2 separate regions of the Homo sapiens genome follow, and region 2 is linked to region 1. The links come from fine-mapping of genetic effects on gene expression. Tissue or cell type: whole blood. Region 1 holds a variant in brackets; the other region holds the start of a gene. All regions are shown on one strand. Distances are between the middles of the regions.

Region 1 (2,684 bases):
TCAGGCCTCCTCCTTTTCCTACGCATCAGGCTCATGGATTTCCTCCGACACAAGATTGGCAAATTGACTTTATTCATATGCCGCGTGTCTGTAAATTTAAATATCTCCTGGTTTGGGCCAATACCTTCACCGGATGGGTCGAGGCCTTTCCCACTAGCTCTGAAAGGCTACTACAGTCATTTCTTCCCTTCTGACAGATATAATCCCCCAATTTGGCCTCCCTACTTCCACAGTTTCTCAGGCTCTTGGTATTCAGTGGAAACTTCATACCCCCTACCGTCCTCAATCTTCAGGAAAGGTAGAACGGATGAATGGTCTTTTAAAAACACACCTCACCAAGCTCAGCCTCCAACTTAAAAAGGACTGGACAGTACTTTTACCACTTGCCCTCCTCAGAATTAGGGCCTGTCCTTGAGAAGCCACAGGGTACAACCCATTTCAATTTTATATGGATGCACCTTCTTACTCAGCCACAATCTTGTTCCAGACACCAGCCCCCTGGGCAACTATCTTCCAGTCCTCTAGCAGGCTAGACAGGAAATTTGCCAAGCTGCTAATCTTCTCTTGCCTACTCCAGATTCCCAGCCATATGAAGACACCCTAGCTGGACGATCAGTCCTTGTCAAAAGTCTGACCCCTCAAACTCTACAGCCTCAATGGACCAGACCCTACCCGGTCATTTATAGCACACCAACTGCCGTCCATCTGCAGGACCCTCTCCATTGGGTTCACCATTCCAGAATAAAGCCATGCCCATCAGACAGCCAGCTTGATCTCTCCTCTTCCTCCTGGAAGCCACAAGATTAGGCCGAGAGCCGATCAGACAAACAACCTACAACCCTTAAGCTCCTGGCAGCGCCCAGCCAAGGCCATGCTTCCTTGCAACACTCCTTCCAAATGGCCATCCCAGCATGCTTCCAAGCAGGCTTCATCCGTTCCTCTGGACCCTCATCTCTTAAGACCTGCCGCCTATAAAAAGGATTATATCTTGAGACCCTATCCTCTAAAATTTTTTCCACACCCAAAACAAAAAATCTCTGGGTCAAAAGTCTAAAACGCTTAGGCTGGCAACCATCAGATCCTTGCCCATGGTGTCCTCAAGCCTACTCTCATGAAATGGACAACAGTACACGCATATGGGGCCAGTTCCACATATTTGGCAACCAGACCAGCATCCAGGACAACACAAAGTATGTTGTTTGTTGTTAGAGGGCTTGGGACATTTCACTCTTTGCCAGCCTCAGCTTAATCCAGGAGACAAAGATTATTTTCCTTATTATCTCTTCTGCATAGGATCTGCAATCAGAACTATTGAACTTCTCCATTCAGACCGCCACTCACACCTATGGGAAAAGGGTAATGTATCATCGGCTTAGCAACAGGGAATACTATTCGTATGATGGAAAATGGGGACAAAAGGCTTTGGTACATAAAACATTATTCCTTCCTTGGCCTAAAAACTCATCGCCACCTACATTAAAGCTAATATGCCTGATTACTGTTTTTAGAGAACTTATTTTATTAGGGCAGTTCCAAGCTCAAAAATACGCTAACTGGCACCTTGTTAGCTACATAAAAATGCACCCTAGACCCGAAACTTACTAGACTCATTATAAAATTTTCTTTAAGGTGTCCACGCAGTCCCTGGTCACACTTGAAGCAGTC[C/T]GGAGAAATATCAGCCCTACCCCAGTAATCCCCAGAAGGAACTTACACTTTTTTTTAATCTTTTCCTACAACTTCATATTTTATAAATAAAAAGACAAAAATGTCAGGCCTGTGAGCTGAAGCTTAGCCATTGTAACCCCTGTGACCTGCACATATCCGTCCAGGTGGCCTGCAGGAGCCAAGAAGTCTGGAGCAGCCGAAAAACCACAAAGAAGTGAAACAGCCAGTTCCTGCCTTAACTAATTAACCCACCTTACGACATTCCACCATTATGACTTGTCCACCATTATGACTTGTTCCTGCCCTGCCCCAACTGATCAATCAACCCTGTGACATTCTTCTCCTGGACAATGAGTCCCATCATCTCTCCACCATGCACCTTGTGACCCCCTCCTCTGCTGAGGATAACCACCTTTAACTGTAACTTTCCACGCCTACCCAAGCCCTATAAAGCTGCCCCTCTCCTATCTCCCTTCACTGACTCTCTTTTCGGACTCAGCCCACTTGCACCCAAGTGAATTAACAGCCTTGTTGCTCACACAAAGCCTGATTGGGTGTCTTCTATACGGACACGCGTGACAGGAACCTCAACCCAAAGGCAGTCTGATGAGGTGTCTAAGATAAAAGTAGCGGCACAAAGGCTTTTGTAAACAGAGGCGTTTCATGTGGTTTTCCTTTCCTTTCCTTATATGTGAAAAGGTGACAGAAAAGAAATCTTCCTAAAAGAGTCAGCCACTGCTCTGTGGAACGATGATCATTTAAATGCCACGTCGATTTGAAACGTACAACAAAGGGACTAACAGTTGAGAACCATGTGGATTGCAGTGGAGACGCTGGCGTTAGAGAATGCGGGGAGGGAAACGTTCATTACAAGATTTACGGCCAGCCCAAGGGGGAGCGAGGCTGGGGGACCGGGTCGCGGAGACCCGGCTTCGCACACCTTTTGGAAGACTCAGGGAGAAGCGGGGGCCGCCTTCGGGGGGAAAGGCGGGACTGGGGAGCCCACAGGCCATGGCTCC
Region 2 (2,684 bases), 160 kb before region 1:
AGTAGGTGAGCTTTATGTGGCATACCTGGCACATAGTAGACAGAATTTATGTACAGTATCTGATACACAGTAAGTGCACTTTATATAGTGAAACTGGCACACAGTAGGTGCACACAGTAGTGCTTTCCGTACAGTCTTTCGCATGGAGTAGAGACAGGCACACAGCAGCTCAAGTGCTAGTTGTCATCCCCTTCCCTTCAGTCCCTCTTTTTGGAGCTCCCTTTTCTTAGGAGCCTTCCTCCGTCGCCCTCTAAGGCCTCATCTGACATCCCATTTCCCAGATGGGAAGCCTGAGCCCAGGATGGCCACACTGCCCACAGTCAGAGAAAGGACAGGGCAGAACAAGGACTCCACTCGGGATCCCCTTGCTCTGCCCTCCCCTGCCTGGACCCCGTCAGCTCAAGGCCCCTCTCAGCCTCATCCCCTGTGCCTCCGCTCTGTCCTCCTAAGCTGAGCCCAGCTTCTAGGTTTGCTCCTCCAGCTGGGCTCTTTATCCCCAGAATCTGACGAAGGTAATCCTCAGCGGGGTTGGGGCTGGATTCTTTCTTCCTGCTTCAAGCAGTCAGGCCTCAACTCAGGCCCTGGGCTGCCAGGAGGCAGGACTTGAACTCTTGCCAGGCTGTGAAGCCAGAGATGAGAGGCTTCTGTCTCTGAATCTCCTAAGTCTGCACCAAGATGTAGTGCCTGACATCCTCCCCGCCCATGTTTGGAGAGGAGCCCAGATGATCTGGGACAAGGGTTGGCCTGGCCCAGCTCAGCTGGCTGCCAACTGTCATGATAAGTATATGCTTTTATCTGAACACCCTTGTCTTGGAAGGGCAGGGTGGAGGTAAACTTGGGGTTCAGAGTCCCCTCTAACCACCCTCCAACTTCCCCTGCAAACTCCCAAGAAGGTACTGAGACCTGAGAATTCAGTGCTCGTGCTGGGGCACCCTGAGCTGCACCCAGTGGGCCCAACCCCAGGTTTTGGCTGGCTGCCCAGGCACGGAAGACACACCCAGGCTGTGGGGATTGGCTGCCTCAGCCCAGCCCAGCCCAGCCCCGCCTCCTACGGCCTTCCCTAGATCAGGGGCCAGGGCCAAAGACCTCCCAGCAGAAGAGGAGAAGAGGTTGTGTGGGACAAGCTGCTCCCGACAGAAGGTACCAGGCTGGGGGTGGCAGGGCTGGAAGGTCCTGGCCTGGGATGAAGAGGGGACTGCCTAAGGCTGGGGTGGCTCCAAGATGCTGGCATGGGAAACTGGGGGTTTCCTGGTAACTGGACTCCTAGCAAACTCCCAAGGATTCAGGTGGGGCCCTTCTGGACTCTAATCGGCCCATCTCTTTCCCTTTCTGTGTGGTTACCAGGTTACTGGAGGCCACTTAGTTGTTGGTTTTGGTTGGGACTTTCTGGACTTCAGATCTCAGCCCTCGTTTACTCACCCCTGAGCCCTCCCTGCCCTGCCCCCAGCAGTTCCTGACTTCGCCCCTATACACTGTCCCCGGAGCTCTTCCCTGGGCCTCAGGTCCTCACCCTGCATCCCCTCTGCCCTGCAGGATGTCGCTGCTGAGCCTGCCCTGGCTGGGCCTCAGACCGGTGGCAACGTCCCCATGGCTACTCCTGCTGCTGGTTGTGGGCTCCTGGCTACTCGCCCGCATCCTGGCTTGGACCTATGCCTTCTATAACAACTGCCGCCGGCTCCAGTGTTTCCCACAGCCCCCAAAACGGAACTGGTTTTGGGGTCACCTGGGCCTGGTGAGTGTGACAGCAAAATGTGTCTGGGGTCTCAGGGTGGATGGACTTCCAGAGGAGCAGGAATGGGGCTCAGTGAGCTAGGTATTGATGGTGGCTGGGGTCTGCGACCCCAGAGAAGCAAGAGAGATGGCTCACTCATTCCTCTGCTAACTCACTCATTCCTCTACCCACTCACTCCTCTACCCACTCACTCACTCCTCTACCCACTCACTCACTCCTCTACCCACTCACTCATTCCTCTACCCACTCACTCATTCCTCTACCCACTCACTCCTCTACCCACTCACTCACTCCTCTACCCACTCACTCACTCCTCTCCTCACTCACTCATTCCTCTCCTCACTCACTCATTCCTCTACCCACTCACTCACTCCTTTCCTCACTCACTCACTCCTCTCCTCACTCACTCATTCCTCTCCTCACTCACTCATTCCTCTCCTCACTCACTCATTCCTCTACCCACTCACTCACTCCTCTACCCACTCACTCAATCCTCTACCCACTCACTCACTCCTCTACCCACTCACACATTGCCCTCCTCACTCACTCATTCCTCTCCTCACTCACTCATTCCCCTCCTCACTCATTCCTCTCCTCACTCACTCATTCCTCTACCCACTCACTCATTCCTCTCCTCACTCACTCATTCCTCTACCCACTCACTCATTCCTCTCCTCACTCACTCATTCCTCTCCTCACTCGCGCATTCCTCTCATTCGCGCATTCCTCTCATTCACTCATTCCTCTCCTCACTCACTCATTCCTCTCCTCACTCTTATTCGTCTGCTCACTCACTCATTCCTCTGCTCACTCATTCCTCTCCTCATTCACTCCTTCCCCTCATCACTCACTCATTCCTCTGCCCACTCACTCATTCCTCTACCCATTCACTTATTCCTCTATCCACTCACTTTTTGCTCTCCCCACTCACTCATTCCTCTCCTCACTCACT

The links. PIP is the estimated chance that this variant, and not a neighbour inherited with it, causes the effect.
Region 2: CYP4F12 starts here. The variant in region 1 is fine-mapped to the expression of CYP4F12 in whole blood (INTERVAL, PIP 0.94).

What each region holds. Positions count from the first base shown.
Region 1 is chr19:15,833,925-15,836,608 of GRCh38, forward strand. It overlaps LOC124900418 (collagen alpha-1(I) chain-like), which reads left to right. Exons shown (of 3, transcript XM_047439793.1): 3 at 1,294-2,684. The coding sequence starts at 2,478. UCA1 (urothelial cancer associated 1) reads left to right here. Exons shown (of 3, transcript NR_015379.3): 3 at 578-2,397. Among named protein-coding and RNA genes, the nearest start is that of UCA1, 6.3 kb to the left of the region's middle. RefSeq lists an enhancer at 1,014-2,213 and a silencer at 2,644-2,684. The variant C/T (reference allele first, on the strand shown) is at 1,666.
Region 2 is chr19:15,671,996-15,674,679 of GRCh38, forward strand. It overlaps CYP4F12 (cytochrome P450 family 4 subfamily F member 12), which reads left to right and starts at 1,092. Exons shown (of 13, transcript NM_023944.4): 1 at 1,092-1,140; 2 at 1,534-1,732. The coding sequence starts at 1,535.